Homo sapiens: one gene and its partner. The protein of the gene in region 1 interacts with the protein of each later gene in a pairwise test. Each region holds a gene or a part of one and is shown on either strand. Other genes may lie near its edges.

Region 1 (8,601 bases):
AGTGACAGGAACAACACCTCAGGGATCACTCCTCGCCCTAAATGAATCGCTCTCCTCCCTTTCCCAGCCCTCCAGAGGGTGTATCTGGGCCACAGACTTGGGAAACCTGAGAACTATGGGTTCAGAGAAACAGGCCCCACTTTGTACCTTGTCCCCAACTTTGTAGCTGGGCAGGCTGGGCATGCGGATGTTGGCAATGTCCACTGAGGGTGCGTCCTCCTGTGGAGGGGTTGCCAGGATCTTCTTTTTGCTCTGGATCTGGCTGTAGATCTCCTGGATGATCTGCTCAGCCATGTTTTTGGGGAGGGGCTTCCCATGCCAAGACTCCTTATCTTCTACCCCTGCAGACCCAACACGGGAGGACAGAGGAATGGGTAAGACAGAAGCTCCCAGAGGGCCAGGAGGCTGCTCCAGGAGACTGGCCCTCTACCTGCCGAGGGCAAGGGAGGAATGGCATCATCCCAGACAGGCAGAGCCCAGCCAGGCACGGGGGCCAGGAAAGGAGGGTCGCAGTGAATAGGATGGACTCCTACGTGCCCACCACTCACTGTCTACTGCCTGGTCCTTTGGGAGCTCACAGCTGAGTGGGAAAGGAGGGGCCAGACGTGGGCAGGTGTGTGTTTCTGGGCCCACTGCCCCATCCCTTCACCAATGTGTCCATTCTCTTCCTCCCCACAACCCCGCCTGCAGGGTCACACACAGGTAGAGGTGTCTGCTGCAGAAATACTCAGTTTGTCGACTGGGTTGGAAGGGACCCTGGCCATCAGAAGGGGAACCCAAGGCCCAGAACAGGGCTTCCAGGGTCACCCAATGCATCTGTGAGCAGCAGAGGAGTCTATAAGCACCTAGGCATGCCCACCCCATGGCACCTTGTTGTGTGCGGCCAGGAAGGCTGAATATCCCTCTCCCTGGAGGTCACCTCAGTAGTCACTAGAGTCTGGCCAGAGCCAAGAACAGACTGAACTCCCAGGTAGCACCCAGCAGCCCGAAAGACTAGCAGGAGCCCCCAAGAAGCTGCAAGTGGTCCAGATCCTGCCCATTTTTAACACCAGAGGGCAGTGCCAGGCAGCAGCACCAAAGCCATGACAATATCCCAGAGCCCTTTCCTCGACATCCACCCCCTCCCAGACACCTCCCAGCACTGCCAAACCCCCACTCAGAACATCCTCATATACCTGAGTCTACATGGGCAGAACAAGCCACAACCCCTGAGAGCAGGCAGGTGGGCAGCCAGGGGCATTTGGCAGGGAAGCCGACCCAGGCCCTGGGATCAGCCCCCCTCGTGCCATAGACTTCCTCTGTCCCCGGGCAAGTCCCTGACCACTTGTAGTCTCATTTTCCCATCTTTAAAATGGGTGAGGCCATCCCAGGCCTAGGAATCTGAAGCCCACACCTGGGTGCCAGGGAGTGACTTACGCCTGCCTCATTCTCCGGCCTGGGGCAGAACCCAGGTTCCAAACCCCCCAAGGCTCTTGGCCCACACAGGCCTTGCTCAGCATCTGCCATTGCTTGAGGAGTACCCCACTCACCTCCTGGAGGGAACAGTTCTCTCCGGGCCCTGCCTGGCTCTGTGTCGGCCCTTCAGCTGGAGCAGGTGGCCGGAGCTGGCAGAGCACACACAGCTGCAGCTCTGAAAGGCACCAGCCAGGGTGGGGCACGGGGGCTGCCTCACTCCACGACCTTCCTCTCACCCACAGACCCTCCAAGTCCCTCCTCTCCTCCTGCCTGTACATGCCCCCACCGGCAGAGGCCAGACGGATCTGAGTTTAAATCCTGGCTCAGCCACAGGGGTCACTGAGTCACAGCATCTCCCGCTCCCCTTCCCTGGAGCCTGGTGAGCTCAGTGAGCAGCAAGGGCTGTTTCCCTGGATGTGCGGGTCAGAGCTACGTAGCCACAGTGTCTGGGCGAGGGGTGAAGGTGGGGAGGGCGGCTTGTGCATACTGACCCGTGATCCCTCGGCCCTTGAAGGTCTTGGCAATGATGGCTGTTGGCTGGTGCTTGGCCTGGCCAAAGGCCTTGCACAGCTCCTCCACGCTGTGTCCATCCACGATGATGGCATGCCAACTGGGGACAGGGGGCAGAGAGTAAGGGGCAATTCCCAGGGGCCACAACACCGAGGAGCCTTCCAGGGAAAGGTCTGCCTTGGCAGCTGGGGTCTGCCCAGGCTCCACCCCACAACTGCGGCCTCAGCTGGAGTAGTAGAAAGCTTGCAACATTCCTGTTTCCAGTTTGGGTTTTTTAAATCCTTTTCTTTTTCACATTATTTTACTTCCTTTTGTTTGCCTCTGAACAGGTTTTCCTCCTCCTCTTAAGTAATCCAGAGCTCAGTTCCTTTATTGTCTCTTTCATTCCTGATCTGCTCATTTCCTACTGAAAGCTGTTCTGGGGTCAGCGCACTGGGTTTGGAATCTGTCTGCTATTAGATTCTTGATGAATTTTTTGGCCCAATTCTTATTTGGGGAACACATTTGATCACTCCACAGATGCTGGATGTGGTGCTGGAAATGTTTTTGAAATGAACCATGGAGTCAAATATACAGGAAGGAGCTGGGGCAGAGCACCCTTTCTCTTGAAAAGCTATCCTTTTGGGGACTCTTTTTGACATAAGAATAAAAATAGCACTTCTCAAACTGAGTGCCATGCCAACCACTACCCATATTAGCCCACTGAAGCCTCACCACGCCATGCTTGGGTGCTGAGCTGGCCCCATTGTACAGACAAATCAACTGAGACACCGAAGGTGGAGTAAGTAACGTGACCCACGCCACAAAGCAAGTTAGCGGTGGAGCCAGGACTTCAGGAATCTGGCTTGAGTCACGAGGTTATGGACACAGGTCCTGGGGGTGCTGCTGGGGTTGTACTCTGAGTCCCCAGATAGATGTGGCCTTGGGGAGGCCTGTGGGGTGAGGACCCTGTGGCTCAGTTTCCTCGCCTGTCCAACAGAGATTATTTCCTCCCTTCCTCCTCTCCCTTTCTGAGGTCAGTCATCAGGGAACACAGGCCTGCGTATGCTGTGCTACTGCAAGGTAACCCCAAGCATCCTGTTACTTAGTGTAGTCACAGGCATGGGTTCATCCGCAAAACGCAGTCCTGGAGGCCTGACCTGAGTCTCAAAGCCTTGCACGGCACCTGCCCTGCTCCCTCCCCTCCACAGCCTCCTCAGCCAATGCTGGGCCCCTGTGCAGAGCAGCTTGTGTTTGGCAACACCGGTGGAGGCTTTGAGGTGGAGCCCCTCTGGCTGACACCCATGCAGATTGACCTCCCTGCTTTGTGCCCTTTGACCCTGAATTTGTAACCAATCAAGGCCGAAGGGGGGCATCTGGAAACCCTATCTCCCATTTCACCAGGAGCCTGTTCCTCCTCCCCAGGCTGGGCGGGGCTGGGCACAGGACGTGGCCACCAAACTGAGGTTCAAACCTCTCCGCAGCTATACATCCTTTAGCTTTACCGAGCAAGCCCCCATCCCTCAAGAACCCTCCTTCCTCAAGAACAAAGCGAGCTGACGTGAGATGGTGTGTGGAAGCTCCGAGAGCCACCATGCCACAACCACGAAAACAAGGAAACTCACTTAAAACTGGGCCTGGCCCACATATCCTGAGCCATTAAGTCCAAATGCCTAGAGTTTGAAATTGTGAGTCAAATGCTAAAGAAAGGGACCTTTAGATGGTGCTTAAGGTCCCAGCTTCAGCTCCTGCACCTGCACCTGCAAAGCTGTGATCACAGACCACTCTCCCGTGCTGTGACCACACTCAGGCCACAGCCTCGTACATACCCGAAGGCCTCGCACCGCTTCTGGTAGATGTCCATCTGGTGCTGCAGTGGGGCCGGGTCACTCTGGCCCAGGCGATTGATGTCTAGAATGGCCACAAGGTTGTCCAGCTTATAGATGCTGGCGAAGGCCATGGCCTCCCATACAGAGCCCTCTGACAGCTCCCCGTCTCCCAGCAAGCAATAGACTCGGTAGCTGTGGACAGAGAGTGAATCAGGCCAGTCCCTCTCACCTGGACCCAGCTGGCTCCCACCCCCCCACCCATCCAAGGAGCCTGCATTCTGGGTAAAGGAGCAGCCACGCATGGATATGCAGAACAGATGGCATTTACACTCGAGGGGCAACAGTGTCACCAGGTTCCTGCAGCCTACCACAAGCCACACCCCAAGAGAAAATGGCATGAAGGAAGACGTCAGGAGCTCAGGAAGAAGTACTGGTTGTTAAGAAACAGAGGTCTAGGACAACAGGGATCTGGCTAATAAGATCTAGAAAAATGGGGGTTGTTGGAATGAGAGGAAAGTGAGGAAGGGTGGGTGAATAGGCTTGAGCCACCTGCTGCAGGGGACAGACCCCGCTGTGAACCAGAGGTTGGAGGAGGCCTTGGGACTGGCTGGGTGGGCCAGTGGGAAAGGGGAACCTTGGGAACCAAGCTCTGCTTCTGCCCGGAGGAGGGAGGTGGGCCAAGGAGGCCTGAGGCACTCTAGGCAACACCCTGGAGCAAGAGGGCTCTGGGGAGGATAGAGCAGAGGGCACTTGAGGACCAGGCGCTTCCTGGGACAGGCTCTCCCCAAGCTTCCAAGACTAGCTCTTGACCCCAAGACTGAAGCTGCACCTGGCTCTTTCTCTACCACAGGGGCCCTCTCCTCCCCTCAACACAGGCAACTGTGATCTTTTCAAGACAGTGAGACGTTAAAAAGAACACTGAACTTGGGATAAATTACCCAGCAAACAGAACGTTCCCGGCCTGGGAGATGTGAGGGGATGGGGGTAGCAGAGGGACGGCAGCAACAGACAGGACTTGTCTGAAGGTCGCGCTGTCAGGAAGTTGCTGAGCCAGGATTCAAACGCAGGTCTGACTGTAGCCTAGACTGTCCGCTCCTTGCCGTGCAGGCATGCAAGTAGGGTGAGGAGTGGTAGGACTTGGGGACCTCCCCTTACCCTGCCCAGTGTCTAGCTGTGTAGCCCTAGGAAATGAGGCTGGTGCCTGGTTGGGCTCAGAGGGGACATGGCTGCCCTCCTGCTCCTGCAGGAAAAGGCCCTCAACCCGGCTGCATGCTCAGCAGTCCAAGCCTCCAGGCCTCCCTGCCGCAGGGCCAAGGCAGGGGCAGCAGGAAGAGGCTGGGACAGCTAGCCACGGAGCTGTCAGCATGACTCAGCACTTCCACATGCCAGCAGGCCAGGAGCACTCCCTGCAGCCTCTCCTGCCTCATACTGCTCTTCTGTGGCCTCCACCACAGGAGGTGGTGCCCCTGTGGGGTACCATGGCCAGAAGGACAAAGCCTCAGGCCCACACTTCAGAGGCCCTATCCTGTCCCAGCCTTGCCTCCTCTTTCCCCTGTAGGTTTTGAGGGGGCCCAGAGACCCTGCAGGGACTCTGGTCTGGCACAGCAGCTCCAGAAAGGGGCCACATGATGGGGCTGAGCCAGAGAAGCCAACTCGACTTCCCAGAAAGGGATTCCAGGGAAGGCAACTGGCTGCCACCCCAAGCCCACACCCACTTCCAGGGAAGTCGAACCGAGGCTAGCACTGGAGGCCCAGCACAGCTTTGGCTTCGAGACTAGGGACAAGGCTAAGCCCTACAGGGCCATCAGGCTCAGGTCAGAGGGCGTGCTGAGGTCCCGAGGAGATGCCAAGGAAGGGGTTGTGAACAGGGAAGGGGCCTACAGGAGCCTGGGCTAACCCTGAGGCTTGGTATTGCCTGAGCTGTTAGAGTTAGGGGTGGGGGGCTGCAAACATCCATTCATGAACTAATTTGAAGAGAGGGAACCCTAAACAGAAGGTCGACATTTGTTGTAGAACGATTTGGAAACTACCTTACGTGTCCAACAACAAAGGACTGGCTAGATGGATTATAGCATCTCCATAAAACAGAATATTATGTGATCATTAAAACCAGCTCTCAGGATGTGTGCAGTGGCTCACGCCTGTAATCCCAGCACTCTGGGAGGCTGAAGTAGGGAGATGACCTGAGGTCAGGAGTTTGAGACTGACCATCCTGGCCAACGTCATGAAACCCCGTCTCTACTAAATATATAAAAATTAGCTGAGTGTGGTGGTGCGCGTCTGTAATCCCAGCTACTCGGGAAGCTGAGGCAGGAGAATTACTTGAACCCAGGAGGCGGAGGTTGCAGTGAGCTAAGATGGCACCACTGCACTCCAGCCTGGGTGACAGAGCAAGACTCCATCTCAAAAAAACAAAACAAAACAAAAAAAACCAGCTCTCCACTGTTAATATCAGGAGAAAAAGCTCATGATAGAAGGCTTGGTTTAAAGTGTAATACTAGATTTTATATTATACACACACACACACACACACACACACACACACACACACACTGGGATTACAGATTTGTAAGCTTTTCTCATGATAACATGGACAAAATACATCATTAGATTTAAATTGGGGGTGGGAGGCAGTGTGCTAAGAATAAGGAAAACATTGGTTGGGTGCAGTGGCTCATGCCTGTAATCCCAGCACTTTGGGAGGCCGAGGTGGGCAGATCACAAGGTCAGGAGATTGAGACCATCCTGGCTAACATGGTGAAAGCCCGTCTCTACTAAAAATACAAAAAATTAGCCAGGCGTGGTGGCACGTACCTGTAGTCCCAGCTACTCGGGAGGCTGAGGCAGGAGGAGAATCACTTGAACCCGGGAGGCGGAGGTTGCAGTGGGCCGAGATCGTACCACTGCACTCCAGCCTGGGTGACAGAGCGAGACTCCATCTCAGAAAAAATAAAAATAAAAAAATAAGGAAAACGTTCATTTCTTAATATCATTCTGTACTTTTTAAACAGGAGGGCAGGGAGAAACAGTGAGTGGAGACCAGTTTGCTCTATCAAGACGCTACCTCCGGGTGCCTGGCCTGACATGATAATCCCTGGATGCCCTGGCCCCTTCCCCCAGGTACAGTCAGGGGCCTAGGCTCCAGGCAACCCTGGCCCCAAGCCACCCTGGCTTCTGGGAACCCAGCTAAACTCCTTCTCCCTACACTGACTTGTTCCATTATGTTAGGGTCAGGAAATGCCCCTTCACAGGGAATTATTTCCAGCAACTGTAGGGAATAATTAACTCACATCTCTGGTTCTCTGCCAAATAAAATGCTCTTAAACATGCATCTCATTCTTTGTGTGTCTCTCTCTCTTTACTTCATGGTGAATCACTTCTGGGTGTAGCCAAGCCTGCCCCAAGGCTCACCAAGGAATGAAAGCAAACTGTGGTCAGGTGACACTGGCCTGAAGGGGTCTGGAAGGGACTGTGAGGCCTCCTTGGAGAGCCAGTCCTGGGGAAGGGCCTGCACACAGAAGGTGCTCCCTGCAGCCTCCTGTCCTTCAAGGACCCACAGTCTTCCCGAACCCCACTATGGCACTTCTGCTGCAGGAGTGGAGGACAGGGCAGTGGAGATGCCATCAGCTGCAGAACTGGGCCCTTCTCACACCCTGCGGGCTGGCCCCACTGGCCTTCCTCCTCTAGGAGGCTTCCCGCCCACAGGACTCCCCGAGCTCCTGTGGTGCCCTCAGCCTCTCCAAGAGCAGCCTGGGTACCTCCACCACCAACTGGATGGCCTAGGCCAGCATCTTGCCTCAGCTTCCTCACCTGTAAGACGGGTCACGGTTCTCACACCACTACCCAACTCACAGGGGGCTTTTAAAGGTGGAACCCAATACAGCACATGAGCACTGAGCACAGGGCCTAGCCCCCAAAGGGCAAAGGAACCCTTCTGATGAGTGACTGACATGGTTAGGCTCTGGGTCCCCACCCAAATCTTACCTTGTAGCTCCCGTAATTCCTACTGGTTGTGGGAGGGGCCCAGCAGGAGATAACTGAATCATGGGGACAGGTCTTCCCCATGCTGTTCTCGTGATGGTGAATAAGTCTCACAAGATCTGATGGTTTTAAAAACGGGAGTTTCCCTGCACAAACTCTCTCTTTGCCTGCGCCTTCCACATAAGATGTGACTTGTTCCTCCTTACCTTCCAGCATGACTGTGAGGCCTCCCTAGCCATGTGGAACTGTAAGTCCATTAGACCTCTTTTTCTTCCCCAGACTTGGGTATGCCTTTATCAGCAGTGTGGAAACAGACTAATACAGTGATTATTCTTTAAAAAAAAGAATAATTTTTTTTTTAAAGAGGCAGAGTCTCGCTCTGTAGCCCAGGCTAGGGTGCAGTGGCTCAATCATGTATAGCTATAATCTTGAAGCCCTAGGCTCAAGTGATCCTCCCACCTCAGCCTCCTATGTAGCTGGGACTACAGGTGTGTACCACCATGCCTGGCTAAGTTTTGTATTTTTTGTAGAGAGAGTCTTGCTCTGTTGCCTAGGCTGGTCTGGAACTCCTGGCCTCAAGCAATCCTTCCCTCAGCCAGCCATTATTCTTAACAGTTTACAACCTCATCCCCCCAGGCCATATCTGACCACCGCAGACAAACTTATGGCTAGAACCTTCCTGGGGGGCCGTTCCTACAAATCACCTGGTGGGCGCTAGAGCAGCACACCTTTCTGGTCAGGCTCATCACCCACCCTCTGAAGGCTCAATCTCTCAAATGTTTGTTTCTTCCCTGCTGATAGGAGGTGGCTTACAGGTATCCCAGAACCCCTCAGAACATACAACCCT
Region 2 (5,342 bases), on another chromosome or scaffold:
TGTAAAGGTGGGATCTCACTGTGTTGTCCAGGCTGGTCTTGAAATCCTGGCCTCAAGCAATCCTCAGCCTCAGCCTCCTGAAGTGCTAGGATTATAGGCATGAGCCACCACACCTGGCCTTCACAATTTACGTTACGGTTCACTCTTTGTGTTGTACATTTATGAGATTTTAATACGTACACATATATGCTTCAAAATTTTGAATTATGCAGATACTATTTTATAGTACACATTATATATAAGTATTTTATTTTATATGATAAGGGTTATTATATTATTTTATTTATATAGATTTTTAAGGCACAAAGTTTAAATAAGAGTAGCAGTTTTCTCTGCAGGTGAATGGAGTTTTAGCTTCCTCTCTGCTCCCTCACCTCTGCTTAGCTGGCTGAGGCCTGTTCTCCCTTTAGTCCCTCCCTGGCTTCCATTCTAGCTCCACCCCGCCTGGCCTCAACCCTTGGCCAGGAAGGAAGAAGGGGCTCTTTGAAGGCCTGGATCACTTGCTATATATCCACATGGGCCTCAGTGATTTGCTGACTTTCCAGGGGACCATCCAGTCTCCAGCTTGCTCCTTTGGTTGCCATTATGTTTTAGCCACCACTTTATTAACTGAATTATAATTCCTGTCCTTCTTCTTCTTTGGTGCATTACTCTCTCTGTTTTTTTTCTTTCCATTTTATGCTTTGATCTTTCAGCCATTATCCAGCTGTCTTGGATTTTACCTTTCGTTCTTAAAACGCCCTCCAATAAACATCAATTATTTTCTTCTTCTTCTTCTTTTTTTATTTCAATAATTTATTTTTCTTTTTTTTAATTATACATTAAGTTTTAGGGTACATGTGCACAATGTGCAGGTTTGTTACATGTATATACATGTGCCATGTTGGTGTGCTGCACCCATTAAGTTGTCATTTATATTAGGTATATCTCCCAATGCTATCCCTCCCCCCTCCCCCCACCCCACAACAGGCCCTGGTGTGTGGTGTTCCCCTTCCTGTTTCCAGGTGTTCTCATGGTTCAATTCCCACCTATGAGTGAGAACATGCAGTGTTTGGTTTGTTGTCCTTGTGATAGTTTGCTGATAATGATGGTTTCCAGCTTCATCCGTGTCCCTACAAAGGACACGAACTCATCATTTTTTATGGCTGCATAGTATTCCATGGTGTATATGGGCCACGTTTTCTTAATCCAGTCTATCATTATTGGACATTTGGGTTGGTTCCAAGTCTTTGCTATTGTGAATAGTGTTCCAATAAGCATACGTGTGCATGTGTCTTTATAGCAGCATGATTTATAATCCTTTGAGTATACACCCACTAATGGGATGGCTGGGTTAAATGGTATTTCTAGTTCTAGATCCTTGAGGAACTGCCACACTGACTTCCACAGTGGTTGAACTTGTTTACGGTCCCACCAACAGTGTAAAAGTGTTCCTATTTCTCCATATCCTTTCCAGCACCTCTTGTTTCCTGACTTTTTAATGATCGCCATTCTAACTGGTGTGAGATGGTATCTCATTGTGGTTTTGATTTGCATTTCTCTGATGGCCAGTGATGATGAGCATTTTTTCATGTGTCTGTTGGCTGCATAAATGTCTTCTTTTGAGAAGTGTCTGTTCACATCCTTTGCCCACTTGTTGATGGGGTTGTTTGATTTTTTCTTGTAAATTTGTTTGAGTTCTTTGTAGATTCTGGATATTAGCCCTTTGTCAGATGAGTAGATTGCAAAAATTTTCTCCCATTCTGTAGGTTGCCTGTTCACTCTGATGGTAGTTTCTTTTGCTGTGCAGAAGCTCTTTAGTTTAATTAGATCCCATTTGTCAATTTTGGCTTTCAATTATTTTCTTCTTAAAGTATAGAACTAAAGAAAATGACCTTTTGAGTTTTGGAAATGATTTTTTTTTTTTTTTTGAGATGGAGTCTTGCTCTGTCCCCCAGGCTGGAGTGCAGTGGCATGATCTCAGCTCACTGCAAGCTCCGCCTCCTGGGTTCATGCCATTCTCCTTCCTCAGCCTCCCGAGTAGCTGGGACTACAGGTGCCTGCCACGACGCTTGGCTAATTTTTTGTATTTTTAGTAGAGACGGGCTTTCACTGTGTTAGCCAGGATGGTCTCGATCTCCTGACCTCGTGATCCACCCACCTCGGCTTCCCAAAGTGCTGGGATTGCAGGCGTGAGCCACTGCGCCCAGCCGCATCTCTCTCATTTTTTAAAACAGCTAAAATGGATGCATTCACTACCTATGACCCTAGGGCATGGCTCAGAGTTAGTTCAAATTCCCATTAAAAAAAAAAAGTAACTTTAGCTTTAATTTAATTTTCTAAATCTGATGCCATTCCTAGTACATGAATATTCTGGATTTCCTCGTAGAGAAATTACAATAAGCATTCAAGAAATATGTGTAAAAAGCTTTCTAATTTTATATTCATTTCACTATTGTGTATGCAACATCATGATCCAGGCATTTGTTTCTATAAATCTACTCTCTAACTTAAGGTTGGGTGCGGTGGCTCACACCTTTAATCCCAGCACTTTGGGAGGCTGAGGCTGGCACATCACTTGAAGCCAGGAGTTTGAGACCAGCTTGGCCAACATGATGAAACCCTGTCTCTACTACAAATACAAAAGAAAATTTAGCTGGGCATGGTGGAGTGTGCCTGTAATCCCAGCTACTCGAGAGGCTGAGGCACGAGAATTGCTTGAACCCAGGAGGCAGAGGTTGCAATGAGCGACGATCACACTATTACACTCCAGCCCGGGTGACAGAACAAGATTGTCTAAAAAAAACCCAAACAAACAAACAAACAAACAAAAAACTACTCTCTAACTTAAAATGAAAAAACAGAACCCTGTCCTCATAAATTTCAGTGCACATGGAACACTGTTATAGGCTGGGGAGGAGGAGGACACAGCTGGGTGGCTGCTGGGTCTCCTGAGTCACATACCAAAAACTTCTGGGCCATCTTTGATGTTCCACCCAGACTGCTTTGAAGCTGGGCTTATCATAACACCTTATGTTTTCAATTGAGCCAGGTCTTTTACAGTTGGAAATAAATAAAAATAATTTCTTTTCATTTTTGTCCTTCAGATTGAAAAACAACTCAACTCAGAGTCACTGTCACAGTGGACTAATCCCAGCACCATGGCCAATGCCAAGGTCAAACTCTCCATTCCAAAATTTAAGGTGGAAAAGATGATTGATCCCAAGGCTTGTCTGGAAAATCTAGGGCTGAAACATATCTTCAGTGAAGACACATCTGATTTCTCTGGAATGTCAGAGACCAAGGGAGTGGCCCTATCAAATGTTATCCACAAAGTGTGCTTAGAAATAACTGAAGATGGTGGGGATTCCATAGAGGTGCCAGGAGCACGGATCCTGCAGCACAAGGATGAATTGAATGCTGACCATCCCTTTATTTACATCATCAGGCACAACAAAACTCGAAACATTATTTTCTTTGGCAAATTCTGTTCTCCTTAAGTGGCATAGCCCATGTTAAGTCCTCCCTGACTTTTCTGTGGATGCCGATTTCTGTAAACTCTGCATCCAGAGATTCATTTTCTAGATACAATAAATTGCTAATGTTGCTGGATCAGGAAGCCGCCAGTACTTGTCATATGTAGCCTTCACACAGATAGACCTTTTTTTTTTTTCCAATTCTATCTTTTGTTTCCTTTTTTCCCATAAGACAATGACATACGCTTTTAATGAAAAGGAATCACGTTAGAGGAAAAATATTTATTCATTATTTGTCAAATTGTCCGGGGTAGTTGGCAGAAATACAGTCTTCCACAAAGAAAATTCCTATAAGGAAGATTTGGAAGCTCTTCTTCCCAGCACTATGCTTTCCTTCTTTGGGATAGAGAATGTTCCAGACATTCTCGCTTCCCTGAAAGACTGAAGAAAGTGTAGTGCATGGGACCCACGAAACTGCCCTGGCTCCAGTGAAACTTGGGCACATGCTCAGGCTACTATAGGTCCAGAAGTCCTTATGTTAAGCCCTGGCAGGCAGGTGTTTATTAAAATTCTGAATTTTGGGGATTTTCAAAAGATAATATTTTACATACACTGTATGTTATAGAACTTCATGGATCAGATCTGGGGCAGCACCCTATAAATCAACACCTTAATATGCTGCAACAAAATGTAGAATATTCAGACAAAATGGATACATAAAGACTAAGTAGCCCATAAGGGGTCAAAATTTGCTGCCAAATGCGTATGCCACCAACTTACAAAAACACTTCGTTCGCAGAGCTTTTCAGATTGTGGAATGTTGGATAAGGAATTATAGACCTCTAGTAGCTGAAATGCAAGACCCCAAGAGGAAGTTCAGATCTTAATATAAATTCACTTTCATTTTTGATAGCTGTCCCATCTGGTCATTTGGTTGGCACTAGACTGGTGGCAGGGGCTTCTAGCTGACTTGCACAGGGATTCTCACAATAGCCGATATCAGAATTTGTGTTGAAGGAACTTGTCTCTTCATCTAATATGATAGCGGGAAAAGGAGAGGAAACTACTGCCTTTAGAAAATATAAGTAAAGTGATTAAAGTGCTCACGTTACCTTGACACATAGTTTTTCAGTCTATGGGTTTAGTTACTTTAGATGGCAAGCATGTAACTTATATTAATAGTAATTTGTAAAGTTGGTTGGATAAGCTATCCGTGTTGCAGGTTCATGGATTACTTCTCTATAAAAAATATGTATTTACCAAAAATTTTGTGACATTCCTTCTCCCATCTCTTCCTTGACCTGCATTGTAAATAGGTTCTTCTTGTTCTGAGATTCAATATTGAATTTTTCCTATGCTATTGACAATAAAATATTATTGAACTACATGTCTTGTTTTTTTTTTCCTATTAAGTTAGACTATTTTGAAATAGAACCAAGCCGTGCGTTTACAAAAGCATCCCTGAAGCAGGCAGATCACAAGGTCAAGAGATTGAGACCATCCTGGCCAACATAGTGAAACCCCGTCTCTACTAAAAATACAAAAATTAGCTGGGCGTGGTGGCGCCCACCTGTAGACCCAGCTACTCAGGAGGCTGAGGCAGGAGAATCGCTTGAACCTGGGAGGCGGAGGTTGCAGTGAGCCAAGATCAGGCCACTGCACTCTAGCCTGGCGACAGAGCAAAACTCCGTCTCAAAAAAAAAAAACAAAACAAAAACTCAAAACATAAAAACAACAAAAACAAAACAAAACAAAAAGAACAAACCCCAAAAAACCCCAAAGCATCCCTGTAGGTAAAATGCTCTTTTGAAGATTGAGGCAGACTAAAAAGAAATAAGAATAATTACTTCCTCTTTTCCCTTGTTTTCCTTTCTTCCTAGCCCTCAG

Evidence for each region. Proteins that work in one complex are often made in the same cells at the same time.
Region 2: the proteins of TKT (region 1) and SERPINB5 interact in a two-hybrid assay, tested with the Homo sapiens proteins (one study listed by BioGRID).

The regions. Positions count from the first base shown.
Region 1 is NC_000003.12:53,231,210-53,239,810, forward strand, and holds part of TKT (transketolase), read right to left. Parts: intron 6,612-8,601; coding exon of another isoform or gene 6,588-6,611; intron 3,966-6,587; coding exon 3,774-3,965; intron 2,066-3,773; coding exon 1,947-2,065; intron 342-1,946; coding exon 148-341; intron 1-147. UniProt on the Homo sapiens protein: Catalyzes the transfer of a two-carbon ketol group from a ketose donor to an aldose acceptor, via a covalent intermediate with the cofactor thiamine pyrophosphate.
Region 2 is NC_000018.10:63,500,244-63,505,585, forward strand, and holds the end of SERPINB5 (serpin B5), read left to right. Parts: intron 1-3,086; coding exon 3,087-3,479; 3' UTR 3,480-4,842; downstream 4,843-5,342. UniProt on the Homo sapiens protein: Tumor suppressor. It blocks the growth, invasion, and metastatic properties of mammary tumors.